2 separate regions of the Homo sapiens genome follow, and region 1 is linked to region 2. The links come from fine-mapping of genetic effects on gene expression. A gene starts in region 2. The other region holds a variant in brackets. All regions are shown on one strand. Distances are between the middles of the regions. Region 1 overlaps RBPMS (RNA binding protein, mRNA processing factor). Region 2 holds the start of RBPMS (RNA binding protein, mRNA processing factor).

Region 1 (5,381 bases), 90 kb after region 2:
GCCAGATGAAAAGGGTACATACTCTGTGGTTCCCTCTGTATATGTAAGTGTTTGAGACATATATACTAATATAAAGAGATCAGAGCAGTGATTGCCTGGGGATGGAGAATGGTGGGACAGAGTGGGAGGAAGGATTAAAGGGGCATGAATAAACTTTTGGTGGTGATAGATTGTCTTGGTTGTGATGGTGGTGATAGATTGTCTTGGTTGTGATGTTTCTTAGGTTATACATATGTCAAAACATCACATATTTCAAGATGTGTAGTTTATTATATATCAATCATAACCTCAATAAAGCTGTTTATAAATATATCATAAAATAAGGCATTCAGAATTCTGGGGCTATTTACATCATTATAGTGTTTATCAAACATACTTACATGCAAATGGCATGACATTTTACTGTGTACTGTGCTGGGTCAATAAAAGGGCCTTGCTTGGTGATTCGCACTTCTGTGTAACAGGAAACAGTGAAAAGTGTTAGGAATCTAGAAAAAGCCAGGCGAGGTGGCTCATGCCTGTAATCCCAGCACTGTGGGAGGCCGAGATGGGAGGATCTCTTGAGCTCAGGAGTTTGAGATCAGCCTGGGCAACATGGTGAAACCCCATCTTTACAAAAAATTAGCCAGACATGGTAGCAGACTGTCTGTCTGTCTAATATTCTCCCCATCTTTCACTGAGGAAAAATCTTTCATGTATATATTCATGGTTAACAATTGAACAATTGAGCATCGAATTTTCAATCATGTTGCATCTGTGTTTGAGTAGAGAAAAACAAATAGAAAATATGATGATAATTCAGTAGCTACTCCTTGCCTATTGAATCAAGATCAAATTCCTGAGCCAGTGGCTTTTGATGTTTTGTGTGTTTGACCCTAAGCTTCTTGTTTAGTTTTGGCTTGCCCTTCCCCAAGAATGTTTTCTTCTTCTCCTACTTCACTGCCTTGGTGAATCCTTTTCTCTGCCTGTGATTCTTAGGGATCCCACCTCATCTTTTGGCTCTATTTGGTAAATGCCCATCCTTTCGATTCTTACTCAGATGCTTTCTCTGGTGTTTCCCCTGTGTTCTGTGTTTTAGTAGACACTAAGCACATAGTGTGTACCCTACACTTTGCACTATATGTATTTACATATGTGTCTTGAATGACTTTTATTAGTGGCACCGTAGCCAGGTACCTTGTACATGGTGGCCTATGTGTTGATTGTGCCTTAAACACAGTGGGTGGAAGACAGTATGGCGATTCCTCAAAGATCTAGAAGCAGAACTACCATTTGACCCAGCAATCCCATTACTGGATATATACCCAAAGGAATATACGTCATTCTGTTAGGAAGATACATGCACGTGTATGTTCATTGCAGCACTATTCACAATAGCAAAATCATGGAATCAACCCAAATGTCCATCAATGATAGACTAAATAAAGAAAATGTGGTACATATACACCATGGAATACTATGCAGCCACAAAAAGGAACAAGGTCATGTCCTTTGCAGGGACATGGGTGGAACTATAAGTCATCCTCAGCAAACTAACACAGGAACAGAAAACCAGACACCACATGTTCTCACAAGTGGGAGCTGAAGGATGAGGGCACAGGGACACATGATGGGGAATAACACACATTGGGCTTGTCGGGGGCTTGAGGGGAGGAAGAGCATCAGGAAGAATAGCTAATGGTTGCTGGGCTTAATACCCAGGTGATAGGTTGATCTGTGCAGCAAACCACCATGGTATGTGTTTACCTTTGTAACCTGTACATCCTGCACATGTACCCCAGTACTTAAAATTTAAAAAACAACAACAACAACAAAAATGCAATGGGAACAATAGTCAGTGAGGTTGGCCCTGCTGTTTTGGAACCGAACAGATGAAGAGTTAATGCATTTTGGTTACTATTTAGGTGCATTGGGCTTAACTTTACTTTTACATTTATTAAAGTTATTGTAATTAATGCCTATGAGGAAAGCAGCAACAAAACAAGCAGGAGGAAACAAATTGTTTTTATATTATTTTTGAAGCACATTATATAGGCGATATATTTAGGGCAGAGGAGTGGCAGATTTACTGTGCTCATGTCATTTTTTTCTTAAGCTAATATTTAAATTATATGGAACCTCCCCCCATCCTTCACATTTTTAGAAGTGTGCAATGGCTAGTTGGGAAAAGTTAGCTTGTAAATTTAAATCAACTAGATGTAATTCACTCTGAATAATTCACATAGAAATATTCAAGTGTTGGCTTAGGGGATGTACCTTAAGATTACACAGAAGGCTGCATCTCCCCTAAAATTTAAAAAGGAAAAAAAAGTGTTGGCTTAGTGGCATCTTAACAGTGAAGTATTCGTTGTATCATGGAAAGAGCATGAATTTAGTATGAGTTGTGGAATATTTGGAATAATATGTTTCTGAGATATCAGGTGAGAGTTAACTCTCTGGAGTGTCCACACCCTTGATCACTTCCTAAATTTATTTTTCCAGGTCCGGACCCTATTTGTCAGTGGCCTTCCTCTGGATATCAAACCTCGGGAGCTCTATCTGCTTTTCAGACCATTTAAGGTACCTTTTTTTATCTTTCAGAAATTATAAAATGAGACAAAAGTCTGTATGCTTTCTGGGAGCTTTTTGAAGCAAGAAATGAAATATTTGAGAAGAAAACAGATGTTTTTAAAAGGTTAATGAGTAAAGGAGATTTAACAACTGAGTTCTAATGTACAGTCTCACTTAGGATAATTACATATTTATATTTCAAATGCAGTAATGTAAGTGAAGATTTATTTCTAGTTTCATACCTTATTATTTGAAATAGTACTGTTGATACTGTTCTTTGGAAATGTAAATAGGTTTTTATGAACTGAGTTAAGAACCTAACCACCGTTATTTTTTCCATGGCAAAACTTTCAAACAAAGTAAAACAAAATTTTAAAGGATACCTAGGTGTAAGTTGATGGTAATATTTCCTGGTGTTTATTGAAATATTTAATGCAGTTACCTGTCCTTCCTATGGAAATAAGATCACTTGATAGATACTTAATGTTGCTAGGATTGAAAA[C/G]TTCATAGGAAATTAAACACCAAGCACTTCGTAGAAACTAAGCCAAAATAGCCTTGCTGCCAAGAAGAAACCTTTTGAAGGTTGGCCTTTGGAGGATAGGAGAAAGCTGGAGCTGATCGAATCGGGGCCCTGGAAGGGATATGTTCCTTCTCTGGAAGGGCCTGTGCTCAGGAAGTCTTAAGTTGGTCAGTGTGGATGTGTTAGCAGCAGTGCCTGGCAGAGACCACACTTATGATTAGGTGATGGGCTGTCTTGATTTCTGGTTAAAGATCATTCTCACTGAAGCAGGTCCCCAGTGATAGAGGCATGACAGGTTGAGGGATAGGATTCAGCTTCTTAGGAAGACGGAATTGGATATGACAACTAAAAACTCTAGTGTTGGGGAGGAGGAAGGAGGGATGCAGGGGCAGCCAGTTAGAACCAACAAAGATAAAACAGTCTAGCTTATGTGCCAAGAGGGCACCATGTCATAAGGGACATAAGTCCACCTGACAGCCATCGCTTTAATGCAACAATAATGATGATGGCACAGGGAAACAGAGGTCAGGTGCCAGGTCAGGTGGGAGGAAGTGGGAAAGGAAGAGAAGGTGGTATGGAGAGAGTGCCACCTTTTATAGAATTTCCTGAGTTTCTTCTGCCGGGTTGTACTTTTATAAAAAGGACCATTTTTCTATCCTTTTTATAGAATGCAAACTTTTAACGCAAATTGATCTTCTTAGTGTATAAAATACTGTTATGTTTTGGGGTGTATAGAGAGAAAGACATTCACCAGCAAGCCCTTTATATGAATTATTAAAGTATTGTCACAATCCTTTCAAGTGGGTGAGTCTCATTTTTTCAAATGAGGAAAATGAAACTTGGAGCTGAATAAATTGTGCTCAAGTTTACACACATAAAAATTGGCAGAGCCAAGATTCAAACCAAGCAGTCTGACTCTGCCCTCTCTGTTCTGAACTATTATGTTATACTGCTTTTCTGTTTGTGACTTGAGAACACAGTATATCCCTACCAGTGGTGTTTTACTTGAGTGAAATATCCAGTTGTCCTTTGCCTTCAAGACCTTCATGGTGTTTAAACCTCTAGTTTTTTCAGAAGAGAGCACCTTGAAGAAAGGAAGAGGCAGAGCTGTGAATCATGACCTCTCTGGCCATAAGAGCTCAAGGCCTTTGAGGTGAAATGTTTATAGTAGCTAATTGGTAACATAGTTCTCTGCTGGGAAGATGTAAGGATGAATCAATCTCAACATCCTGCCCAGAAACCCCGACTAGAAAGTCAGCACCCTAGTACATTCCTGACAACCCTCTTTTAATTAAAGTCCCTGGAGGCTGACCCTAGTCTGCAAATCTGTCTCTGCGCTGATGTGTGTAGTGGTCAATCACGTCAAGTGGTGTGTTTTTCCCCTGTGTCGTCCGTTAATGCAAGCCACCAGCTATTGATTATTTTCAGAAATAAACACATTTTGTTATCCTTATCTTGAGGAGCCGGGAGGGGTGAAGAGAGGGAGTGAAAGAGGGAGGGAGTGTTTCTGTCTTCCTTGAGCATGAGCTGGAATAAAAACCTGAAGGGATTATTTTTGCATGTCCCCATCAGAAGAGCAACATGAAAACTGGTTCCTTCAGTAAGTTAGCAAAGTAACTCAACAAAATTCAACATCATTGCCTGCTTAACCATTTCTGGCAGTTTTGAAAATGTGGTCAGGGAGTTTTACCAACTATATTTTTTTGAGACGGAGTCTGGCTGTGTCTCCCAGGCTGGAGTGTAGTGACGCCATCGGCTCACTGCAAGCTCTGCCTCCCGGGTTCATACCATTCTCCTGCCTCAGCCTCCCAAGTAGCTGGGACTACAGGCACCCACCACCATGCTCGGCTAATTTTTTTGTATTTTTAGTAGAGATGGGGTTTCACCACTTGTCGATGGTCTCGATCTCCAGACCTCATGATCCGCCCGCCTTGGCCTCCCAAAGTGCTGGGATTACAGGCGTGAGTCACCGCACCCAGCCCCAACTATATTCTTAATGTTTTATTGTTGTTATTTTATAGCAGCTACATGACCAATACATGGCTCTGACCTTCCTGTTGTATTAAATTTACCCTCTTTCCTTGCCTATTTCTGTAAAACTCCTATTCTTATCTAGACCAAGAAAACAAAAAGATTGCTATTAACAGAGACACTCATTTTTCTACCATTGTGTAATTTCATGAAAAAAAAATAGAAGGAAGAGAAACACAGATAAATCCATAGATTGATTTTTTTTAAAGGCCCCAAGAATGCAAACAGGTGTGTGTGTGTGTGTGCACATGCACATGCATGTGTGTAATTTGCTTTCCCA
Region 2 (5,381 bases):
TGCTCCATGACAGGCAAGAATGGCCAAAGACACAGTGCTAGCATCATGGGCCACCACGGGGTCCTAAGACCACCACTCAGCTATTATTGCTCGGGAAGACATTGCCCCCTCGTGGTTCCTCATGTAATTGAGGGAAGCTGGCAGTGCAAAGAGCTGCCAGTTAAGGCAATCAATACATCCAAACACGTGCAAAGTTTCCACATTCACTGTAGCCTTATCTCTTCTGAATGTCTTGGGTTGCAGTTTCAAGAGTTGGTTTATTTTCATCCAGGATACATGTTTGTTCCCCTTAGAGAGAAATCACATTATGACAGCAATTAAAAAAACATGTTTTCCTTATGGAAATCTTCCTGTTTCAAAATCTCCAAACCCCCAAGATAAATCCAATATGTAAATCCAAGTATCACTACTGTTTTTCTCCTCATAATGCCCTTAAAGCAAATATTTTCCTTGCTTTCTATAATCGGAAAGAGGATTCTGAGAGTATCTTGGCTCCATACCACTTTATTTTTTTGTCTTTTCTTTTTTTCCCCTCTGTGGAGAACAGAGTCTCACTATGTTGCCCAGGCAGGTCTTGAACTCCTGGGCTCAAGCAATCCTCTTTCCTCTATCTCCTTAAGTGCTGAGATTCCAAGTGTGAGCCACCATACCACTTTAAACTCCCTAAAGGGAGGGTCCTTATCTGCAACTCCCACAGCCACCCCCGCCCTATCCCCAGCAGCACTTAAACCAAGTATAAAGAATGTCTGGTGGGGGTGGGGAGAAACAGTTAAGCAAATACTGTAGTTGGAAACTGTTACCGGTGCAAGACAGGAGCAGCAGGCTGGGATGGAGAATTCCTGGGAGGAAGAAGTGGGGCAGAACCCACTGATATATGGAGTTCCACATTTATACCTTTGTAGCAGTCAAATCTAAGAGTTTAACACGGTGGCTCCACGTTGTAATCCCATCAGTTTGGGAGGCCAAAAGCAGGAGGATCACTTGAGGCCAGGAGCTCGAGCTCAGCCTGAGCAACAAAGTGAGACCCTCATTTTTCTAAAAAAAAAAAAAACCAAAAAACCATAAGCTTAAATGATCGAGTATTGGAAACGCTTTCTAAGGCCCTGGAAAAATAGAAGTTTTCTTAATAATAATGTTAGCTTCCATGTATTGTAAACCTAAACGAAGCAAGAATAAATGCTGGGTGCTGTATATAGCTCTATCAACCTATAATCACCTCGAAAACTCGAGGAGACACATTCAGCTGCTCCCATTTCACGGATGAGGAAACAAGTACGCAATCCTGAAGCTGGTGCAAAGCCCAGGCCCCCTTTCTTTTTCAAGCGTGCTTCCAGCCTCTGAAGTTCCTCCGTACGGACCCCCAGCTCTGCCTGCAATAAGGAATATTCACTTTGCCAACAAATATTTATTGAGTGCCTGCTATATACCCCTTAGCCCGTTTAAATAGCCGTGGGATTAAAAAGATAAATAGGGCAGGATTTTTTTTTTTCTTCCAGGAAGGAGCTTTCTGAAGGGTGAGGGAGAGGCCAGGTAAACAATCCCAGAACAGTCTGGTGAGAGTTGGGAGAGGAGTCGGGGGGCCGCGGGACGCTCAGGAAGCGAAGCGGGGAAGGCTCCGGGCGCGTCGCAGGACCCGCGCTGGAGATGGGTTTGAAGCCCTGTCCTGAAAAAGCCGGCCCGGAGTGGGCTGTCCCCGGTGTCCCTCGAGTTCTCATGCTGTCATTCAAGCAGCAGAGGAAGAACCGGGTCTGGCTCGGGAAGGGTGGGCTTAGGGCCAGGGGTGCAAATCCCTCGGTAAAAGCCGGCAAACTAAAAGTCGCACACATCCCAGGTCCCGGTCCAGGCCCCGGCGGGGCAGGGTCCCCGAAGTCCCGGGGCGCGCAGACGCCGGGGCCCCCGGGGGCCAAGGGAACGGCGGGACCCGACCTCCCTGCCCTCGGCCTCCCGGGCCCTCGCCCTCCGACCAGCCGCTGAGTCGGGGGCTGGGGTCGCCGCTTCCGCCCGCGGCCCGCTGCCCCTCCCCGGCGCGCGCCATCCGGCCGCCGGCCCCTCCTCCCGCGGGGGGCTCCGTCCCGCGCCCCGTCCCTCCGGGCTGCAGCCGGCAGCCCACGTCCAGGGAGGGCGGAGGGAGGAGGAGAGGCGCGGAGAGGAGGGAGGGGAGAGGGGAGGGAGGAAGGCGAGAGAAAGGGAGCTGCTTCCATCCCGGACTTCCCAGAGCCTGCCTGGAGCGCGTACTCAGCGGCTCTCGGGTCCCAGCGTCCCAGCCGCGGCCCGCGCTCCTCCGCCCCGCTCCTCCTCCTCCTCTTCCTCCTCCTCCTCCTCTCTAGGCACCCCCGTCCCCTCCTTCCAGCGGCTGCAGCCCCCAGCCCCAACTCTCCGCGCTTACTCCTGGGACGCGCGTCCTCGCCCCATCCTTTGCTTCCTTCCTTCCTTCCTTCTTCCTTCCTCCCCTGGCTCCCGCCCTCCCTCTCCAGGTCGCCCTCCCGGGGCCCGATTGTCTCGGTGCCCCGCTCCCGGCCCGCGCCCTGCCCCGTCTCTCCCTTGCACTTCCTGAGTCGCCCGCCGCCGCCGTCGCAGACTCGCCGCGGGAGCCCCAGCCCAACCCGAGCCCGACAGCCACTGCCCCGGCTCCAGCTCCAGCCCCACAGCCCGCGGCGCCCGCCCGAGGGAGCCCCGGCGCCCGGGGAAGGCTCCAGTGGGCTAGCGCGCCCTCGCCCAGCCCCGCGCCCCAGCCCTGCCCGGCCCGGCGAGGAAGGACCGGGAAGATGAACAACGGCGGCAAAGCCGAGAAGGAGAACACCCCGAGCGAGGCCAACCTTCAGGAGGAGGAGGTACTGGGCGGCTCGGTGTGGTGGCGGGGGCGACGCGGGACCCAGTGCGGGCGGCCGGCGGGGCGCGGGCCCGGGGCGCGGCGGTGGAAGAAGGTTCAGGCATGGCCCGTGCCCCGGACGCAGCCCCACAGTGTGGCCCGGGGAGGGTGGATCTCGGGAGCGTGTGTTTTTGTGTCCACGCGCGTCTGCGGGCCCCAAATTGCGTAACTCCAAGGACTTTTCGGAGACTTTTGTAAGTATAATGCTCAGCTTTGTTTGCCCGGGATTTATAAGTGGAACCGAGAGCTGACTCCTGGGTGACCTCAGATAATCGGGACTCGGAGGGTCAGGACTTAGGGCCGGGGCTGGAAATTGTGTATGGATTCAGGGTCGGGGGGGGAGCAGTTTAAGGAAGAAACTCGGGGGAAAGTTCTCGTTAAAAGATACCTCTATTCCCTGCCCCCTCCCTTTCCGTGTTAAAAGTTCTTGGTGAAATATCTTTCTAGCCGAGGTTTTTTGGATTAATAGATAACTCATCAGCCACATTCTTCTCTGCTGAGTCAAAGACCCCGAGCCTGGGCGGTGAACGCTTGTGATTTTAGGGGCCGTGCAGCTGAGGGGAGCAGAGTAAGAGGGTTAAAAACGCAGCAATTCACCAAATGCTCATCGAGGGTATTTTCATAGGACTTTGACTTCTGAGCATGCATTTTAGGTGGTGCGTCCGTAATCATGATGAAAGTTTTGTGACTGCGGAGCGTTCCTTCGGTGGAAACAAAATTGAGTAGATGTGGTCAGAAGGGGAGTCGGACTCAGGAACAAACGTTTCAGAATTCAGTAGGATATTTGTGGTATCCTACCAAATGACTCTTTTTGCAGGTACGTTATCTGGAGTCCAAGAAATTATTTCTGGCGTACTTCTTAACATCCCACACAGTTGAGTTCTTAAACATTCTAGAGGAACTTGAGAGTGTGTGTAGATGCAGGAAAGTGCACGTCTAAATATGACCCGAAAAGATTCACACAGGTATTGGATCCTGATATAGGTGAACACAGAAGGTAAACGGATTCTAAAGCGTTAGAATGTTGAGATCATTGTTGAGACACTATGTTGTGTGCAAACTTCAATTCTGATAGTGAAACCAAAATTGCAGAGGAATTCATTAATACATACAACTTCTCTGCACATTGTCCACTTGGAAAATGGTAACTATTTAGATGGAGAAGGTAGAGGAGCGAGACTATGCCAAACAATGCAAAATAAATAGGAGATTTTACTCGTCACCCAGTTGTATGGTAGTGAAAACCTAAATGAATTGCAGTCAGCCAAAAATTGCTTTTTCACCCGAGGACATTTTCTATTTTATTATAAAAGACTATTTGAAGAGTTGTTTACTTGCATGTTTTCTAATTACAATTGTAGGAATGCTACTGGCATTTCTTTTTTCAAAGCGATGGAGAGTTGAATGGTGTGTTCTGATTTTTTTTCTTGAACTTTACTGGCTGCTTTGCTATTTATTTTCCCTACCACTTAAAAAAATTTAAAAATAATGACAAGTGTGCTTTTTTAGGAATTACCATATTTAACTAATTCACTTACCATATCAAGATAATCATCGCTTCAGAAATCTTTCTGTTTCAGCTAGATGTGCAATCTGTTTGCTTCTCAGGGTTAGAATATTATATGAAACCATCTTTCTTTATTCACCCAGTTGAGAAAACTTTTTTTTTTCCTTTTGGTAGGTAGCAAAAGAGGTTCAATGTCCTAAAAATCATACCCACATTAAAATTAAGTATAGAAAAGTCACATTTTTCTGCTTGACCCCTCTTAACAGCTGCCAGGACCAAGGGATTGCCTGCCCTGTTCCTGGACGCTCCTCCGTCCTTGTGAGGTTGTGTATAATAATCGCTGTATAATCGCGGGCCATTGCAGTACAGTTGCTGCCTCTTACTTGTCCTGTTATCTGACAGCGTTCCTTTTCAGGTAGGAATGGCATGTGGCTCTAGAAAGTATCGGTCTTTTTAGCAAAACACTTGTTATGTAAAAAGTAAGGGGACACGTAGGAAGATTTCAGAACCCAAGTTGTCCAAGAGAGATGTCGTGTACAAAACAGTTAAGACCGTGAAGAGAGGGGGGTTTATAATGTCAGAAATTGAGGAAAAGAAACTAAGGTGGCCTGAATGATCCAGGTAATTTTGCCTTAATTTCCTATTTTTGGTTTATATTTTGTTCTTGAAAAACTCTTAACCTCTTTTTTGTTTTTTTCTTTCTAACCCTGAAAGCCACAGGTAAAATAAATAGAGTATTAGGTGAGTGCCATTAATGTGCCCGGCATTACACAAAACCACTGCACTGACCCTTTCCCTGCCCACCCATTGTATCAGCAACTTGCTCTTAAGCACATTTAAAAACCTTGGCGGTGGACTCCAGTAAACAGAACACACACATACAACATAGATATATACACGTAATGACGAGAGGAAAAATGTGTTTCGTTGTAATTTCTGGTAGCCATTGAACTGACATGGAAAAATGAGTCCAATCATCATTAAGGGAAAATAGTTTATTTCACA

Evidence for each region. PIP is the estimated chance that this variant, and not a neighbour inherited with it, causes the effect.
Region 1: its variant is fine-mapped to the expression of RBPMS in nasal epithelium (TOPMed, PIP above 0.99).

What each region holds. Positions count from the first base shown.
Region 1 is chr8:30,472,298-30,477,678 of GRCh38, forward strand. RBPMS (RNA binding protein, mRNA processing factor) reads left to right here. Exons shown (of 9, transcript NM_001008710.3): 2 at 2,482-2,559. Among named protein-coding and RNA genes, the nearest start is that of RBPMS-AS1, 90 kb to the left of the region's middle. RefSeq lists a silencer at 3,472-3,663. The variant C/G (reference allele first, on the strand shown) is at 3,053.
Region 2 is chr8:30,382,328-30,387,708 of GRCh38, forward strand. It overlaps RBPMS (RNA binding protein, mRNA processing factor), which reads left to right and starts at 2,214. Exons shown (of 9, transcript NM_001008710.3): 1 at 2,214-2,831. The coding sequence starts at 2,766. RBPMS-AS1 (RBPMS antisense RNA 1) reads right to left here and starts at 3,074. Exons shown (of 3, transcript NR_046205.1): 1 at 2,817-3,074; 2 at 1,217-1,370; 3 at 1-288. RefSeq lists enhancers at 2,001-2,671, 2,672-3,343.